Homo sapiens: one gene and its partners. The protein of the gene in region 5 purifies or fractionates together with the protein of the main gene of each other region. This does not show direct contact. Each region holds a gene or a part of one and is shown on either strand. Other genes may lie near its edges.

Region 1 (3,500 bases), on a different chromosome or scaffold from region 5:
AAAAACATAAAAATAAAAAAAATTACGACTGGGCGCAGTGGCTCACGCCTTAATCCAGGTACTTTGGGAGGCCGAGGTGGGTGGATCACAAGGTCAGGAGATCAAGACCATCCTGGCTAACATGGTGAAACCCCGTCTCTACTAAAAATACAAAAAATTAGCCAGGTGTGGTGGCGTGCACCTGTAATCCCAGCTACTCGGGAGGCTGAGGCAGGAGAATCGTGTGAACCTGGGAGGCAGAGGTTGCAGTGAGCTGAGATTGCGCCAGTGCATTCCAGCCTGGGTGACAGTGCCAGACTCCATCTCAAAATAAATAAATAAATAAATAAAATAAAATAAAAATTGGCTGGGTGCAGTGGCTCATGCCTGTAATCCCAGCACTCTGGGAGGCTGAGGCAGGTGGATTACTTGAGGTCAGGAGTTCCAGACCAGCCTGACCAAGATGGTGAAGCCCCATCTCTACTAAAAATACAAAAAAAATTAGCTGGGCATGGTGGCGTGTGCCTGTAATCTCAGCTACTCGGGAGGCTGAGGCAGGAGAATTGCTTGAACCTGGGAGGCGGAGGTTGTAGTGAGCCAAGATTGCACCACTGCACTCTAGCCTGGGCAACAGAGTGAGACTCCATCTCAAAAAAAATAATAATACTAAAATAAAATAAAAAACATTAAAATAGTTTACAAAGGTAAAGAATCCTTAAAATTATACATCTCTCCTGCTAATCTCAATTCCGTTGAACCCCTGTATAAGGACAGCCCTTATTTGTGAGGAAGATAGACGATTACCATACGGTATTTCCACTTCCTCCCAGGGCAACAGTTACCTGTCGGTACCAGAGTATTGGATCCATCTCTGCCTGTCGACCACACTCAGCACCTGTCTTGGCCTCAGAGGCCTCCTTGCTTAGGTGGCTGGCATCACTCAGCTTCACTTTAAGGCCTTCAGGGGCCTGGCCCGGGAGTTTTGAAGAGTCATCTAACTTGGGAATGATGACTGATTTGGCTGGGTCAGCCCCTGGCTCCTTGGCCTTGCCAGGTCCTGATTTCACCAGGTCTGTCAGGCTGGGGGCCTTGGTGAGAGTTGGTGGAATTGACGGCTTTTGCTTCCACTCTTCCTTGAGTGCTGCCTCCCGCTCCTTCAGGCCCATCTCTGCCTTCTTGTCCACTCCCCGCTGCTGCTGCTCTAAGCTCTGGCGTTTCTGCTGTTCTTCGTACTGCTGCCGGTAAGCCGTGTTAGTGCTCAGAAGGTGGGTGTGGTAACTCTGGTCGCTGTAGCCATAGGGGGGTACATAGGCATACTGGTTGTAGTACAGGGACTGCATGTACATATTGGGACGCTGCTGGATGACCGAGGGCTGCTGACTGGAACTGCTCAGCTCGGGCTTCTTTTCTTCACAGATATCGTTCTTCACTTTCCCTTCTATGCTCTCAGGTTCCTCATCCCTTTTTGTCTTCAGGGCCTGGCTCTCCACTCCTGCCTGGCTGCTGGGGTTCAGAGCCCCAGGGCTGGACTGTGCATAACTTGGAGAATAGTAACTCTCAAAGCCTTGGTAATATGGTGAGTCTTTGCTCTGAGGCTGAGGGGGAAAAAGAGTTTTCTTAGCCCCTTCTTTAACCAACTGTTCGGCGTCCTTTGATTTGACACTGTCTACCTTGCCCTCCCCATCCTCCCCAGCATCAGAGATGTCAGAGTATGCAGGGCTGTTGGTTTTGACTGAGCTGGCTTCAGCTCCATTCTGGGTCACCACATGTAAGGGAGTCAGGGGCTGAGTAGGGGTAGTGTTTTCAAGGCGGCTACTGCCTCCAATGGAAGGGCTGGGGGCATTGTCCGTGAAACTGTAGATCTTGTCGGCTTCAGCCTTGATGCTAGCCAGTCGGCTTTGGTGGGGGTCTGATGAGCCATTTAGGAGCCCCTCCATTTTCATCCCATCTCCTGAAGATTCCCTGAATGGGCTTTTGCCTTCCTCTGCTCGACACACCTTCCCAGGGGTCAGAGGACTTTCAAGTTCCTTTGAAGATTCCTTCTTTTTTTTGTCTTTCTTTTTCTTGTCCTTGGCTGGAGTCAAGGCAGGGTTGACTGTGAAAGGTTCTCCCATAACAGTGGGCTTGGGCTGAATGGGCTTGAGTTGGGGACTGTTGGGCATGGCTTGTGCCACTGTGGCGGTCAAGCCTGAGGAAGAGCCTGGGCTCGCTGCTGTGAAGGTGGCTGTCTGGAAGGTGTAGATTTGCTGTGGGGGGATGGCAGGGGCAATGGGACGGGCTGACTTTAGGCTCTTGGAAGGAATCTTTTCAGGTTTTAAACTAGAGGGTTTTTTACATTTTTCTTTTTCCATACACTTCCTTTCTAAAGAATCAAAGGCATCATTGCTTGTTTCATCCATCACTGAGGGTCCATCATCAGAGCCATCATTGGATAAGGCCCCAAGGTCTGTGTCCCCTTCCCCACTCAACTTTTTCTTACAGAGGCCTTTTGTGCTGAATTTGCTTGAAGGAGAAGGGCTATGGGGCTCTACAAGTCGAACTTTGGGGGTAGCTGAGCGGGCAGGGGACAAGGAACCTTTTTGTGAGACAGATGCACCGTTGCAGCTCCCAAGATCTGCATGGAGAATAGGTTCCTCTCCGTACTCACTGTCCCCATCCGCTTCCGGCTTGCTGTCATCATCTGTATGGGCATGAGCTTGGTGGTACTTAAGTCCATTGATGTGCTTGTACTTCTTGTTGCAGTTTGGGTGGGGACAGTCAATTAGGACGGGGGAGGGGCAGTTTCTGTCCAGAACAGTGGGTTCTACCTTTGTCCCAGGAAGGGGGCCAGTGGCTGAGCCCATGGAATTAGTACGGACACGCTTGCTCCCTTTGGAGTCCTCTGAGCTAGAATTCAGCTCCATGTCTGAAAGGGGTTTGTTTTTCCGCTTATTAGCTGAGGAAGGGCTGGCCTTGACATCCTCAGAAGTGCTGCTGGCAGGTGGGCGGTGCTCTGAAGAATTCTGGCTGCCCCGACGGCCTTTGCTATTGGCTCCTGCCCGGGTTTTGCTGCTGTTACTGGTCCCTTTGCTGTCAGAGGCTGTGGCTGTCTCATTGACAGGTGTATTACTGTTGGGACGCATGCGTTTGCCTCTACCCCGGCCATTGCGCATTTCCAGGTCACTGGTCGGGGAGTCACAGAACCTTGGCAAAGGATAAACACAACAGAATATTATTAAGAAGAGAAAACATCTTCAAAGCAGTTTAGCTGTAGCCTCCAGAACTGTCCAGATGGTGACTATCATTTTCAATGAATATGATTTGTTAAAAGAAATTCTGATTGTGAATTGCACTAAATGGTGAACTCCTGGGATACACGTTAGCTGCAAATTATTCCCAAACATTTACCTCTAAAACCATGCAGAATCTGTTCCGTAAGATAGTCAAGTCAACATTTCCTATATACAGCCATAGTCATGGTTTCAGAAAAGATGTTAGAGATCATACAGGAAATTGAGGCCAGGCATGCTAAATGACTTGTC
Region 2 (3,500 bases), on a different chromosome or scaffold from region 5:
ACCATGTTTCTTCAATACATCTATCTACTGCTCAGAATATACTGGTGGCTCATAATGGCTCCTACTGCCATCTTACTGTCATTTCTGACTATATTTACATCTTTGCCTTTCTCTTCAGTTAATTGACATAGCATTTGACCTTTTTTTAATCCAAGTTTTTATGCTATTTTAACCTTACTTGTCTGCAAAATAATACACTTCTCTTGAAAACACTTCTACAGTGAAAACAGCCCAATTCCTTGCCAGTCTTGTACAAAATAATGCCCTTAACCTAATTACTCTAGCGATACCCCCAAAGTGCTTTATGTTTACAGTGTAGCATGTGCACATAGTCAAAGATTTCTCGACACATCTAAAATTATTTGTTTATAGATTTCAAGCTTTCTGCTTCTGAAACTCTGCTCAAATAAGGGTGTACAATACTCTACAAGTATTAAGAACAATAAATAAGTCTGAAATAAAACTTCAGATCAAAATATGTTCAATGCATAATGATACTCACCTTTTTGCCTTCCTTTGATTATTTCTGAGACCATTCTATAACAAAAGAAAATGAGAAATAGTTTCAGATGACTAAATCAGTCATCTTCCTTTCCCGTTTTCCTTCCTCCTGTATATCTAGATGGCTCTCTGACCAATTTCTTAGTCCATCAATGTCTGTACTCTCATCAAGCCCTGTATCAACACTTAGTATTGTAAGACTTAACTTTTTGCCAATCTAATGAGTTTAAAATAGTATCTAATTGTTTTGATTTAAATTTTCCTGATTCCTAGTAAAGCAGCTTTTAATATTTGTTGCCCATTTGGGTATCTCTTCTCTGAATATCTGTTTATACATTTTGTACACTTTTCTACTGAGCTGCTTGCCATTTTCTTATTGATTTGTAGTTCTTTATAACAGAATACTCTTGTAACACTAATCACCAAAAGCATGGATTTTGCTCTAAGTTCAACATTGCCTGCTTATGTGCACAAAAAAATTGTCTGGTTTTTGTTTGTTTGTTTGTTTTTGCGATGAGGGTCTCACTATGTTGCCTAGGCTGGTCTCAAACTCCTGGGCTAAAGCGATCCTCCTACCTTGGCCTCTCAAGTGCTGCAGGCTACAGGCATGTGCCACTGCACCAGCCTAAAAAATTATCTGATTTCAAGTTTACTTTTAAGTTTAATTCTAATTTTTAAAAACAGAAACGAACTATATTAGTGAATCTTTAAATATTATCCCATTGGTAGGAGAGAAAAGCAAAATCATAGGAATATACTAAAATATAAGGATGAGTGAGGAAAGACAGAAGTGACGTGTGGAAGGGTAAGGAATGGAACTTAATTTTAAAAAAAGTCAAAAAGCTGCCGAGCCGGGCGCGGTGGCTCATGCCTGTAATCCCAGCACTTGGGGAGGCCGAGGTGGGCAGAACACGAGGTCAGGAGTTCGAGACCAGCCTGAACAACATGGTGAAACCCCGTCTCTACTAAAAGTACAAAAATTAGCCAGGTGTGGTACACGCGCATGTAATCCCAGCTACTCAGGAGGCTGAGGCAGGAGAATCGCTTGAACCAGGAGGTGGAGGTGGTAATTAGCCAAGATCTCACCACTGCACTCCAGCCTGGGCAACAGAGGGAGACTCCATCTCAAAAAAAAAAAAAAAAAAAGTCTACTGAGGTATTATCATTTAGTAAGAGTGCATAAGATAAAAAATATAAAAATTATGGTGGAATACTGGAAGTTATTTTTAAATGAGGAAACGCACAGAAAAATAAGATTAAGTAGGAAGCTTCGAGACTAATACGATACCATAAGCAACGAAGAACTGTTTAAACTGTCACTGTTAGAATTTATCTCTGATGTATCTGCTGAGAAGTCACCTTCAGATGATGATTCAGAAGCGCTAGAAGAAAAGGGTGTAACTATTAGTTTATTAATTCTGTTTTTATCACTTATTTCTTTCCCTAAATTCTCCTTAAACATAAAAATCTGTCTTTCAGACAGAAATATGAATATGTTAAGTATCTCAATTGTTTGTCTACACTTACAGTGTGCTGGTCACTAAAGAGTTGCTTTGGGACTCACACGTAGTAGCAAAAGAACCAGAGGACAGGTAGTCAGATTTCTGAAAGAAAAAGTATCCCTTAGTAGGCTTAAATACAACTAATTATTTCTCTACAGAGGCTCAGTTTCTATGTACTATCACATTTATTTCAACACATTTACCAAATCCACAACCATAAACAATTACAAGATTAATAACATTTTTTGGATGTTTGGTCTGGATTTTATTTTATTTTTTATTTTACTTTTCTGGATCACAGGGCAGATATTTTGTTTGTTTCTTTCTTTTCAGACAGGATCTGGCTCTGTTGTCTAGGTTGAAGTGCAGTGGCACAATCTTGGCTCACTGCAACCTCCATCTCCCAGGCTCAGGCAATCCTCCCGCCTCAGCCTCCTGAGTAGCTAGGACTACAGGTACATGCCACCACACCCGTCTAATTTTTTTTTTTTTTTGTAGCGACATGGTTTTGCTGTGTTGCCCCGGCCAGGTGGTCTGAAACTCCTGAGTTCGGCCAGGTGCAGTGGCTCAAGCCTGTAAACCCCAGCACTTTAGGAGGCTGAGGTGGGTGGATCATGAGGTCAGGAGTTCAAGACCAGCCTGGCCAACATAGTGAAACCCCATCTCTACTAAAAATAAAAAATTAGCCGGGCACGGTAGCAGGCGCTTGTAGTCCCAGCTACTCAGTAGGCTGAGGCAGGAGAATTGCTTGAACATGGGAGGCGGAGGTTGCAGTGAGCCGAGATCGTGCCACTGCACTCTAGCCTGGGCAACAGAGCGAGATTCCATCTCAAAAAAAAAAAAAAAAAAACTCCTGAACTCAGGAGATCCACCTGCCTTGGCCTCCCAAAGTGCTGGGATTACAGGTGTGAGCCACCACACCCAGCCCAGCCTGGAGTTTAAAAACTACCCTGAGTTGCCACCAGAAATTTTATCCCTCTGAGGCCTCATGGCCCCATGGTGCATGGCTCATCGGTACGACACAGAATGGAGGAATCATTTTGCTAAATCACTGGCTGTCTTGGCATAATGTTAACACAGTCTAACCTCAAGTCAACTTCAGAGGGAATTTTAAAACATAAAAATTTAATCCAAAGGCAATACGTACCACTGAGGTTTCTTCTGATAATATCTGAAGATATGCAAGTTTAGCGGCCAATTGTTTTGCTTCCTGTTTAGTAGAACCTGTACCAATACTATATTCTTTCTGTCCCATTTTGCATTTATAATGAAATCTAGGAGAAATCATAGAAGGTACTTATCCAAACATGAAAAATATAGCAAATCCAACTTAGGATTCAAAAAAAATAACATATTAACAGAGATCTTAAGATAACACCAATTTATTAGATAGATTTATAGTTCATATCTTGCATAATTTAAACCCTCAGTAACATGCCTGACCAATTTCTCTGAATACCCAGGATCAGCTGACATCTGAGCTTGCATTTTCCAGGC
Region 3 (2,198 bases), on a different chromosome or scaffold from region 5:
TGTCTAGATTTCTCAACTCCACTTTATAAAGCTTATCAGTTTTCAGAGAGGAATGTGAATTTTTTTTCTAATGCAAATAAATGGATATGGCAGGAACTACAGCATAAGTGATTATTGTGATTCTGGGTGGACGGATATAATTTACAACATTTAGGGATGTTCTAGGTAGCCTGCTGTAGTTTGACTTCCAGTCACTGTTGTCTTTCACATTATAATTTGTATATTTCTTGTGATAGAAGGGATGATGCAAATATGTAATTAAAGTGTCACCAGATTTCTGTTAAAACCAAGGTTGAAATAAAAAGCCTAACATTGGTAAGCTACATTGTTTTCTCATTTTAGAATGATTCAGAGATTTCAGATAGACATTTTTTAAACTTTAATGCTTAGCTAGAATCTACATTCTGAGGAAAACTCTAAAAAACTTAAAAATTTTTAGGGAATTTTTATTTTTCAAATCATAATTTTAAAATGATAGATACCATTTTGTGATAACAACAATTCAGAAAACAATTTTCTATCCTCTTAGTTGAAAGAATGTAGGTACAGTTTGGATACTTGTACTTTAATTTTAGAGTAAACATCTGCATTATACTCTTATAGATAATAGAATTATTTAGTTAAGAAATTCTTTACAGTAAATGAGATAATGTGTGAAAAAGTATTTTGTAAATGCTGAGGATTCTACAAATGATAGTTGTTATTTTCATGTGTATTTGTAAGATCATGTCCATTTCATGAATATAGGACTTCACATAAAAAAAGACTTTCTCAAGACAACTTTATATTCTAGTATTTTTCTGTTGTAAAAAGTATTAACTATTTACTTTTATTTTGTTATACATTTATTTTAATATCCATGTGTTTATTATAGTAAATTTGAAATGAAATCCTGAAAAACAGAATTTTTTTAAACACAGACCTCACACCAATATTAATTTTTTCTCTACATAATTTAAAACTACATAAATTAAGTACTTAAAATTTATATTGAAGGCCACCAAGAACTTAGGTTGAATCTTAGAAAATTTAAATAACTATTTTTAAAGTTACCCAACTTAATATTTTAATTTTTTAATATTTATCTTCCTTTACTAATTCTTGATAAATAATAGCATTAGACTTGATAAAATAAAAAAGAATTTTAGAGTAGAATTAATATATCAAAAGGGGTATATCAACCAAATTGGTGTCAGATTGTATTCATTCTCTCATCACATAAAGATTTTTCTTTTGATAGGTGATGCTCATATGAACCTTTGGTTTAGAATCTATATATGTACATGTGTATGTATGTAGATAGTATGGTTGTATACACACATATATACCAAACACCATGAATTTTAGCAGTCTGTGATGATCAGCAAAAAAGCACATAAAGTAAAAATTAGTTGACCATGCTAAATTCAATTCTGGAATTTTTTTTTATTTGGGCATTTCTAGAACTTTTTACATTTGAAAGTACATGATGAGTATTAGTAACGATGACTTATGTATAATCAGAATCTTTATGACAATTTAGTTTTACAAGGTCAGAAGAGATGAGTTTGCTAAACCCAGCTGTGATACCTCAGTTGGAAAGGGAATTCAAAGGTATGCTTTGTAGAACAGAAAAGTATAGTTTTTTTTTCATGAACTTTAATCATTTTCTGTTTTTCCTCTATGTGAGTCAGCTACAAAAGTGGTCTAATTTTTACAACAGTAGAACTTCCTCCTTTTCTACTGTAATCTTCCCACTGACTTTACTGCACAGGTATGAAATACTAGTGTATTGGATCTTCAGTAACCTTTTTATTTCCTAGATGATTGAAATATAGGTATTTACTCCATTTAAACCAGGTGATAAGATGATGTAAATACTCAGGGAGGGTATTAACTTGTTACTTTTGCTCGTTTGGGGTGTAAAGTGCCATGACTGAATAATCTTCAATTCATGATTCTAGAGTAAGTTTAATTTGGAAAAAGGGGCTTCACACATGGTGGTGGTTGAACATTGATTCTTTTATACTTAAAAAGATGAAAATGTTTTGTGGACTGATACATTTTATCTTACTGAATATGAATTGTTTATGTATCTCTACTGTCAAATAGCCTTTTTGAAACTCAGGAAAGACAAAGGTTCAATTACACCACTTTTGTCAATAAGCAAACCAGGTATTTTTTTTTTCTCCTGTTGTCTGGATATGGCAATAGATTTT
Region 4 (3,500 bases), about 33 Mb from region 5:
GGAGTGCTTGGCCTTTCTGAGGAACAGCTAAAAAGGTTAGTATGGCTGGCACAGAGTGGGCAAGAGAAATAATAGAAGATGAGGTCAAGGCTGGGTGCAGTGGCTGACACCTATAATCCCAGCACTCTGGGAGGCCAAGGTGGGCAGATCACTTCAGGTCAGGAGTTCAAGACCAGCCTTGCCAACACGGCAAAACCCCGTCTCTACTAAAAATACAAAAATTAGCCAGATGTGGTGGCACGCGCCTGTAATCCCAGCTACTCTGGTGGCTGAGGCATGAGAATCTCTTGAACCCAGGAAGCGGAGGCTGCAGGGAGCTGAGAAGAAACTACCGCACTCCAGCCTGGGTTGGACAGAGTGAGACCCTGTCTCAAAATAAATAAAAAGAAGATGAGGGACCAGGCACGGTGGCTCACACTTGTAATCCCAGCACTTTGGGAGGCCAAGGCGGGCAGATCACGAGGTCAGGAGTTCGAGACCAGCCTGGCCAATATGGTGAAACCCTGTCTGTACTAAAGAATCAAAAATTAGCTGGGCATGGTGGCACGCGCCTGTAGTCCCAGCTACTCGGGAGGCTGAGGCAGAAGAATCGCTTGAACCCAGGAGGCGGAGGTTGCAGTGAGCCGAGATTGTGCCGCTGCACTCCAGCCTGGGAGACGGGGAGATTCTGTCTAAAAAAAAAAAAAAAAAAAAAAAAAGATGAGAGATGAGGTCAGAAAGATAGGAATGTTTGAGTTTATCCAGGGATTAGATGATTGCAAGAACTCTCGTTTCCACCGTGTATGAGATGGGAAACCAACAGAGGATTTAGACTTGAAAAGAGACAAGTTCTGGCCAGGCGTGGTGGCTCACGCCTGTAATCCCAGCACTTTGGGAGGCCGAGGTGGGTGGATCACGAGGTCAGGAGATCGAGACCATCCTGGCTAACACAGTGAAACCCCGTCTCTACTAAAAATAGAAAAAATTAGCTGGGCATGGTGGCAGGCGCCTGTAGTCCCAGCTACTCGGGAGGCTGAGGCAAGAGAATCGCTGGAACCCAGGAGGCGGGGCTTGCAGTGAGCCAAGATGGCACCACTGCACTCCAGCTTGGGCGACAGAGCAAGACTCCGCCTCAAAAAAAAAAAAAAAGAAGAGACAAGTTCTGACTTTATTAAATGGAGACCTCTGGTTGCTCAAAAAAGCCTGTAGTGTGGCAAGGGTGGATGCAGAGAGACCAGTTTGGCTACTGAATTGAATATAGGTGAGAATTGATGTTGGTTTGAATCAGAGTGCTAACGGTAGACACAGAAGCAGTTGGGTTATGGAAATATGTTGAAAGCAGACTGAGATTTGGATGTGGGGTATGAGAGGGTTATCAGAGAGGATTCCTGGCTGTGTGCAGTGGGTCATGCCTGTGATCCCAGCATTTTGGGAGGCCAAGGTGGGAGGACTGCTTGAATCCAGGAGTTTGAGACCAGCCTGGGCAACAGTGAGACCCTGTCTACAAAAAATAAAGGAATTAGGTGTGGTGGCATGCACCTGTAGTCCTAGCTACTCAACAGGCTGAGGCAGAAGGATCCCACAACATAGAAAGAGTCCATCTTTAACAACAACAACAAAAAATTTTCAAAAAAAGATGACTCCAACTTTTTTTTGAGTAACTAGAAGAATAAAAATTGCCATTTACTAAGATGAGGAAGACTGGAAGGGAAGCAATATAGGGAAGTAAGATCAGGAGTTTGGTTTTAGCTGTAGTTTGAGATGCCTTTTAAGACATCAAGTGGGAAAGTTAGGTAGCTGTTATATAAAAGTTGGCTGTTAAAGGGAGAGAAGTTGGAGTTGGTGTTGTTAGACCATAGGTAATAATTTAAGAAATGAGACTAATGAGATCTTGTGAGTGTAGATAGAGAAAAGGTTGAGCATGCTAACAGAAATAAAGGGGAAACCACAAAGGAGGCTGAGAAGGAGCAGCCAGTAAGGTAGAAAGAGCCATTGGTCAAATGAAAGCTGTTAAGGTGGTACCAAGCACTGCTCTCCTTACCTCATCACTAGGTTCACAGTATACAATTGACGCTCCGTAGGCTTGTATTGCAAGTTTTTTACAGTCTGGAGCTGTCTGGGGCACCACAATATAAGCAGGAATTCCTGGGAGAGGAAAACGAGAGGAAAAAGTCAGGAGAATTTAGAATAGAAACTTATGTGGCCAGGCACGGTGGGTCACACCTGTAATCCCAGCACTTTGGGAGGCTGAGGCAGGCGGATCACAAGGTCAGGAAATTGAGACCATCCTGGCTAACACGGTGAAACCCTGTCTTTACTAAAAATACAAAAAAAAAAAAAAAAAAAAAAAATAGCCAGGCATGGTGGCAGGCTCCTGTAGTCCCAGGCTGAGGCAGGACAATGGTGTGAACCCGGGAGGTGGAGCTTGCAGTGAGCCGAGATCCTGCCACTGCATTCCAGCCTGGGCGACAGTGCAAGACTCCGTCTCAAAAAAAAAAAAAAAAAAGAAAGAAACATGTTCAGCCAGGTGTGGTGGCTCACGCCTGTAATCCTAGGACTTTGGGAGGCCAAGGCGGGTGGATTGCTTGAGCCCAGGAGTTCGAGACCAGCCTGGGCAACATGGTGAAATTAGTATTTTGTATTTGTAAAATAGAAAAAATTAGCCAGGCGTGGTGGTGCGCACCTGTAGTCCCAGCTACTCAGGAGGCTGAGGCAGGAGAATCGCTTGAACCCGGCAGGTGGAGGTTACAGTGAGCCGAGATCGCGTCACCGCTCTCCAGCCTGGGTGACAGCAAGATTCTGTCTTCAAAAAAACAAAACAAACAAAAAAAAAACTTATGTTCATATTGCTTGCAATCAGATAGAGATTTCTTTGGAAAGTTACTTCCCACAGCTATCATCACTCTCACTGAAATTAAGGGCACTTTTCCACTCCTTTCTGAAGATCTACCCAGTACCTTGAGAAATCAAGTACCTTCCAATTTGGCAGCATAGGTGAGAGCCTGGCCATGGTTTCCACTGCTGTGAGTAACAACAGCTTTCGGCTTCCTTTCTAAAGCATCAGGAACCAAGCTTCTGACGGCATTGAGAGCACCACGAATCTGAAAAAGAGGGATGGTGAATTCACATATTTGATTAAAACATTGTTTTGGAAAGCAAGGAGCTTTTCTAGATTTTCTATCCTTAACATGCACATCCAATCTGTCACCAAATCTTATCGATTTACCTCTTAAATATCTCATGTGCATCTTTATTTTTTATTTTTTTGAGATGGAGTCTCCGTTATCCCGGCTGGAGTGCAGTGCCACGATCTCGGCTTACTGCAACGTCCGCCTCCCCACACTGCGTCTACCCCCAGGGCCGGGTTCAAGTGATTTTCCTGCCTCAGCCTCCCAAGTAGCTGGGATTATAGGCACCTGCCACCATGCCCGGCTAAATTTTTTTTTTTTATTTTTTTAGACCTAGTCTCGCTCTGTTGTAGCCCGGGCTGCAGTGCAGTGGCGCGATCTCGGCTCACTGCA
Region 5 (3,309 bases):
AAATGTTTGTCTTAGTTATAGGCGTATATATGCATGTACTAAGTTGCCATGGAAAGTGTATTTTACTTTGGGTAAAGGTAAAAAAAGATTTGAAAGCCAAACTTTTTGGCTTGGTGTTCTTCATCAGTTAAAAAAATATTGTTTTTTGTTTGGCTGGGGGCAGTGGCTCACGCCTGTAATCCCAGCACTTTGGGAGGCTGAGGCCGGCAAATCATCTGAGGTCAGGAGTTCGAGACCAGCCTAACCAACATGGTAAAACCCCATCTCTACTAAAAATACAAAAATTGGGCAGATGTGGCAGTGTGGGCCTGTAATCCCAGCTACTCGGGAGGCTGAGGCACGAGAATCGCTTAAGCCAGGGAGGCGGAGGTTGCAGTGAGTCGAAGTCACACCAGTGCACTCCAGCCTGGGCGACAGAGCGAGACTCCAGCTCAAAAAAAAAAAAAAAGAAAAAAGAGTAAAAACAGAAAAAAGAAATGTTAAGTGGTGGGGATCATGTACAAGGTTTTTCTTTGTAATAGCAAACATCTCATAACAATACAAATATCCATATAGGCCGGGCACAGTGGCTCATACCTATAATCCAAGCACTTTGGGAGGATCACTTGAGCCCAGGAGTTCGAAGTCAGCCTGGGCAACATGGCAAAACCCTGCATCTACAGAAAAACACAAAAATTAGCTAGACATGGTGATGTGCACCTGTAGTCCCAGCTACTCAGGAGGTGGAGGTGGACGGATGGCTTGAGCCTGGGAGTTTGTGCCACTGCACTCCAGCCTGGGCAGCAGAGGGAGACCCTGTCTCAAAAAACAAAAACAAAAACAAATATCCATGTAATGGAAAATCATAAAACAGTAAAAACGACTGAACCAGAGCTACATGTATCAAGATAGATGAATGTCAACACAAAGTTGAGTGAAAAAAGCATGTTGCAGATGGGTATGTGCTGAATAATATCTTTTATTTGTACAACATCTACAAACGTGAAAAATAATAGATCTTGCCTAGGGATAACATAAATATGTAAGAAACCTATAAAGACACACATTGAGTAATAAATACACAATTTAAACTTTACTGTACTCATTACTTGTCGGTCGAAGGATGGGGACTTTGGTGGGAGACAGAAGTGTCTGGGGGGCTTTACCCATAGTGATAAGATTTTATTTCTAAAGGTAGATGAGGAGTAAATGGAGGTTTAATATAATATTCTTGATATTTTTGTATAAGTCTAAAATACTTCATAATTTTAAAAAATTCAGAGTGGAAGAAATAAGTTTTTGAGCATCCACACCAACATATGTATATTTGTTTTATTTTATTTTTGAGACAGGGTCTCACTCTGTTGCCCAGGCTGGAGTGCAGTGGCAGGATCTCGGCTCACTGCAACCTCCACCTACCAGGCTCAAGCGATCCTCCCACCTCAGCCTTCCAAGTAGCTGGAATTACAGGCAACCGCCACCATGCCCAGCTAATTTTTTGTATTTTTAGTAGAGTCAAGGTTTCGCTATGTTGGCCAGGCTGGTCTTGAACTCCTGACGTCAGGTAATACACCCACCTTGGCCTCCCAAAGTGCTGAGATTACAGGTGTGAGCCACCGCGCCTGGCCCATATATGTATTTGTATTTCTGTTAATTTTACGTGCTAGATATTAATAGGTATTATTAAATGCCACTAAAATGTAAGTAAATATTAGTAATTCCATTAAAATTTAAACAATAGTAAATAAACATTAGTGAAATTGAATGTATTACTTCCATACCCCAGTAGATCTTTGTGGTTATTCCCTGGGGCATTTGCACCCCACTTTGGAGGGAGGACTTGCCATTTTAGCATGTTTTTTAAATTGTGGTTTGCAGAACACTTGCATCAGGATTTTCTAAGCTTTTTTTTTTTTTTTTTTTTTTTGAGATAGAGTTTCACTCTGTCACCCAGGCTGGAGTGCAGTGGTGTGATCTCGGCTCACTGCAACTTCTGCCCCCTGGGTTCAAGCAATTCTCCTGCCTCAGCCTACCAAGTAGCTAGGATTACAGGTGCCAACCACCGCACTCAGCCAATTTTTGTGTTTTTAGTGGAGACAGGGTTTCACCATGTTGGCCAGGCTGGTCTGTAACTCCTGACCTTGAATCTGCCTGCCTCGGCCTCCCAAAGTGCTGGGATTATAGGCGTGAGCCACTGCGCCCAGCCAGGATCTTATTAAAGATGCGGATTCTCTAGTCCCATGCTAACTGGGGACCAGGGACTAAAAGTCTGCATTTTTAGTAAGTGCCCTGGTGAGTCTAATGCAATGCTATAGAGCAATGAGGCTGTTCCAAGCTGTTTGCAAATGGCTGGGGATGCTGGTAAGTCAGGCCCAAGGCCTGCCCTCAGGTGGAACGGGCTGGGGTGGCCTCCTTCATCTGATTCACCTGTCTCCCCTTTTGCTCCAGGAAGCCGCTGCCAGTAGAGGATTCAGACTGCAGCTCTGATGAGACCAGCATCTCTGCCTTCTCATCCACCTTGCTGAACCCCATCAAATTAGCTGTGACCCAGCCCAACAGCAGCTTCTTTGCAGGGATGCTGGAGGGGGAGCTGAACAAACTCAGCTTCTCCCCAATGGCCAAGAATGCAGAAAATGAGGACCTGGCGCTCGGCCCCTGCCCATGCCCATCGAAGTCCCAGATGGCCACAAGGGGCCTGCTGGACCTTGACAACCCTGAGCTGGAGACAGAAACCTCCTCAACGCACTCAGAATCTTCTGTGGTTGTGGACCTGCCGGACACCCCCTTCATCTTTGAGCACACCGTCAACAATTCCACAGCTGTGGTGCGTTTCCCTTGCTCATGCGTTCAGCAGAGGCTTATTGTGCCAGGCACTGAGCTGAGCTCCATGGGTAGTGAGAAGGTGCCTGCCACCTGCATGTCGACCTCAAGTTCACGGTTTAGGAAGGGAGAGGATGTGTCTGTAAAAACTCCAGTGCAAGACAGAAAGGGTTCAGTGCTGTAGGAAAAGTTCAGAGCAAGTGCCACCAGGAATTCAGAGGGAAAGATATTTCCAGATGCGGGAATAAGCTTGGTGGCTTTTGGTAACATCTGAGCTGGGATGTAGAGGTAGCATGTAAACATCTAGAGGTGGAGGAGGGAGGCATTCCCTGGAGGGGCGGACCCTAGCAAAAGCTCACAGGAAAGTGAGGGAGGAAATCTCAATTTGAACAAGATGGTAGGTGATCTGTAGGAACATGAAAGCGTGAGAAGCCCTGGATGAGGACCTGGGATCGAGTGAGGCTACTCAGAATTGCTGGGCCTCCTCCCTAGAGGGTCTAGGGTGAAGCC
Region 6 (3,500 bases), on a different chromosome or scaffold from region 5:
ACTATCATACAGATCTTCCAAGTGTTAGCACATTACATTAAAATACAGTATCAAAAAAGCTTTGTTAGTATCACTATCCATCTCATCAGAAAAATATTAAGAAGGTATCAAGCTCATAATAGATTTGAGTTTTCTAAAATTCTAATTTTCACTGGAAAGCACAAATTTTGTCATCTGCAGCAGCAAATGCTTTCCAGTTTTTTTCCTTCACATGACAGGCTCACTTCATTTTTTTTTTTTTTTTGAGGAAATATCTGTCACTTAAGTACATTAATCTCAAGACCACAGTTTATCATTCTTTCAAGTAAAAACAGTATTTGATGAAAATAGCATCTAGTTCAGCTTGCAACTCACAGAACTGCATAACTGAGGGAAAAAAGTGGTTTTTTAAAGACAATTCTTATTTTGATATGCAGCAAAAATGCTTTATTAAGGCATACTTCCCATTTCATCATAAATACTACTACAAAGATATGCAGTAGGAACTACAAACCAAAACCATAAAAAGATACCACTTCACACCCACTAGGATGGCTGTAATCAGAAAGATGGGCAATAATAAGGTTGGTGGCGCTAGAGAGAAATTGGGACTCTCAACACATTGCTGATGAGAATGTAAAACGGTATGGTCTCTTTGGAAAACCGGTTAAACCCAATTGCCATATAACCCAGCAATCCAGTCCCAGGTACATACCCAAAAGAAAACATTTCCACACAAAATACTACCTACACAAATGTTCACAGCAGCAATATTCATAATAGCCAAAAAGTGTAAACAACCTAAATGTCCACCAGTAGATAAATAAAATGTGGTATATCCATACAGTGGAACAGTATTCAGCCATATATAAAGAAATGAGGTAATGACACATACCATGACACAGATGAACCTTGAAAACATCATGCTAAATGAAAGAAACCAAACACCAAAGGCCACATATTGTACAATTACACTGATACGAAATAACTGGCAAATCTGAAGGGACAGAAAGTAGCATAGTGGTTGTCAGGGTCTGAGGGGAAGTGAATGATGAGTGACTGCTAAAGGGTATGGGTTTCCTTTTGAGGTAATAAAAATGCTCTGAAATTAGATAGTGATGATGGTTGTACAACTCTATGACCATAGTTACAACCAGTGAATTGTATAAAGAGTGAGTTTTACGGTATGTGAGTTATATCCCAATAAAGCTATTATTTTTTAAAAGACATGCAGCCCTCAAGGGTCAAGATTTAGTAAATATCTTTTCTTACTGGTTCATCGAGGTCATTCTTGAGTGAAACTGGGATTTTTCTTTAACTGCAAGTGCATGGTCATGAAGAATACAGCAACAACTATTACAGTTTGCTGTCACTGCCTTGATTTATGCTAAGACACAAGCAGTTTTATCCACCACCACTGAAAGTGTCAACACAGAGAACAAGGCAAACAATTTCTTAGTGCAGCTTGATGTGAAGGACCTCTGAGAGGGTCTCAGGGATATCCAATGGTCCACAGATCACATTTTAAGAACTACTGTTCTAGGCCAGGAGCAGAGCGGTGGCTCACGCCTGTAATCCCAGCACTTTGGGAGACCCACACCTGTAATCCCAGAACTTTGGGAGGCCCACACCTGTAATCCCAGCACTTTGGGAGGCCAAGACAGGCAGATCACTTGAGGTCAGGAGTTTGTGACCAGCCTGGCCAACATCTTTACTAAACCTCATCTTTACTAAAAATACAAAAATTAGCCGGATGTGGTGGTGTGCACCTGTAATCCCAGTTATTCAGGAGCTAATCCCAGTTACTCGAGAGGCTGAGGCACGAGAATTGCTTGAACCCAGAAGGCAGAGGTTGCAGTGAACCAAGATCACACCACTGCACTCCAGCCTGTGTGACAGAGCGAGACTCCATCTCAAAAAACAAAACAAAACAAAAAAAAAAACAACTACTGCTCTAAACCAGTTTCAGAAATCCTAATCCCAACCCCTAAAAAAAAATAATCACAGCTTCAGAAGGCTTAAATGCAATTAAAGGATTTCCAAATACGGATCTGAGGTTCTAAGACCATTTCAATTTTCTAAGCATGTATCACAAATTTATCAAAAGAAAAAAGGTAATCTTTAAATGGTGATGGGAGTTATGTCAATCAGTTCAGTTAAAGTGTCCCAATTTAAGAGTTTAGAATCACTGACCTGGTGAAAGAATGTTAGTAGTACAATCTCCACAGAAATCCAAATACAAAACAGAATTAAAGTAATAAAGTTCAGGATTTACTGCACAACAAAACATTCAATCAAATGTTATCTAGACAGACAACATTAATAGGGTAAAAATGACACTATCTCTTTTTAAACTTTATTATTTAATTCTTACACAACATTCAAAGAGCAGACTTCAGAAATGTCTACCCATACTATTGACAACTATTTCTAGCACAGCTAAGTTTAATGCCCACTATCACAGAATCAAAGAATTTTTGGTCTGGAAGGTCACCTAGACAGTTACCTAGTCCAACACCTCCATTTTACACAACAAGGAAACTGAGTTTGCGAAAGAAAAATAACTTGGTCAAAATCACACACCTAGCAAGTGGCTGAGGCATATTTACTCCCTGTACCATGTTTTCACTATACCAACCTGACTCCTCAACCAAATATAATGCATAAAAATTTTAATTCACATCACACTAAGGCCAACCAAGACACCCTACCTGCCAAATAAAAATTTTATAATGCCTGACAATATCAATCAGATGTCAAAACAAATATAAAATTAAGAAAAAACTATAAATGTTAATTGGCATAATAGAAACATGAATCCCTAACTTCAAAAACTACAAACTTTCAAAGAATAATTTGGAAGATACTTTGATGTCTACTTTCATACAAACATATTTTCATACAAACATTGATCATTAATTCTAATGTGAGTCTGATGCTGATAAATACCTAAAGCAAAAAATTTCCCTCTATGTATTATCACTGAACTTATTTATGGCATGACATAACTTAAGACTCACCTGCAGGACTGTCAGCATTCTCTCCTGGATGTAGCTGTATACCAGCAGAATCTATAGAGTTCACTGTAACTGTTTGTAGATTTGGCAACTGACCAGTGCTTAGACTAACTGGAGTTGAAGTGAAGGCTCCACCTGCCGCAACTTGACCAAGTGTGAGGGTTTGAACAGGCGTCAAAGTTATTTGTTGGGCAGCAGTATTCTGTATTTGCAAATTCTGCAAGTTCTGGACCCCTTGTACTTGAAACGTTTGCCAAGTTACCTGTCCAGAAGGGGTCACTGTCTGTGCCTGAATTAAAAAGGTTCCAGGATTCAGCTGCAACTGAAGATTTTGCAAAGCCTGTTGTGATATATTTTGACCACTGGCTTGCACACCATGGATTGTCTGTGGTGTAATACCTTGCACAATTTGGGCTTGACTGGTTGGCTGCTGAGACTCTTGAAGTTGTAGATGCTGTACAACAGGCTGTGCTGTAGAAACCTGAATATTCTGTGCCTGTGTCT

The links.
Region 1: the proteins of FNDC8 (region 5) and ZNF609 purify together in Homo sapiens (affinity purification with mass spectrometry; one large-scale study listed by BioGRID and IntAct). This does not show direct contact.
Region 2: the proteins of FNDC8 (region 5) and EIF2AK2 purify together in Homo sapiens (affinity purification with mass spectrometry; one large-scale study listed by BioGRID and IntAct). This does not show direct contact.
Region 3: the proteins of FNDC8 (region 5) and KLHL24 purify together in Homo sapiens (affinity purification with mass spectrometry; one large-scale study listed by BioGRID and IntAct). This does not show direct contact.
Region 4: the proteins of FNDC8 (region 5) and SRR purify together in Homo sapiens (affinity purification with mass spectrometry; one large-scale study listed by BioGRID and IntAct). This does not show direct contact.
Region 6: the proteins of FNDC8 (region 5) and SP3 purify together in Homo sapiens (affinity purification with mass spectrometry; one large-scale study listed by BioGRID and IntAct). This does not show direct contact.

The regions. Positions count from the first base shown.
Region 1 is NC_000015.10:64,673,578-64,677,077, reverse strand, and holds part of ZNF609 (zinc finger protein 609), read right to left. Parts: intron 3,163-3,500; coding exon 822-3,162; intron 1-821. UniProt on the Homo sapiens protein: Transcription factor, which activates RAG1, and possibly RAG2, transcription. Through the regulation of RAG1/2 expression, may regulate thymocyte maturation.
Region 2 is NC_000002.12:37,136,481-37,139,980, forward strand, and holds part of EIF2AK2 (interferon-induced, double-stranded RNA-activated protein kinase), read right to left. Parts: intron 3,278-3,500; coding exon 3,151-3,277; intron 2,106-3,150; coding exon 2,029-2,105; intron 1,884-2,028; coding exon 1,790-1,883; intron 538-1,789; coding exon 503-537; intron 1-502.
Region 3 is NC_000003.12:183,680,623-183,682,820, forward strand, and holds part of KLHL24 (kelch-like protein 24), read left to right. Parts: 3' UTR 1-2,198. UniProt on the Homo sapiens protein: Necessary to maintain the balance between intermediate filament stability and degradation, a process that is essential for skin integrity.
Region 4 is NC_000017.11:2,317,450-2,320,949, reverse strand, and holds part of SRR (serine racemase), read right to left. Parts: intron 3,081-3,500; coding exon 2,954-3,080; intron 2,125-2,953; coding exon 2,021-2,124; intron 1-2,020. UniProt on the Homo sapiens protein: Catalyzes the synthesis of D-serine from L-serine. D-serine is a key coagonist with glutamate at NMDA receptors. Has dehydratase activity towards both L-serine and D-serine.
Region 5 is NC_000017.11:35,124,615-35,127,923, forward strand, and holds part of FNDC8 (fibronectin type III domain-containing protein 8), read left to right. Parts: intron 1-2,427; coding exon 2,428-2,803; intron 2,804-3,309.
Region 6 is NC_000002.12:173,951,874-173,955,373, forward strand, and holds part of SP3 (transcription factor Sp3), read right to left. Parts: coding exon 3,000-3,500; intron 1-2,999. UniProt on the Homo sapiens protein: Transcriptional factor that can act as an activator or repressor depending on isoform and/or post-translational modifications. Binds to GT and GC boxes promoter elements. Competes with SP1 for the GC-box promoters.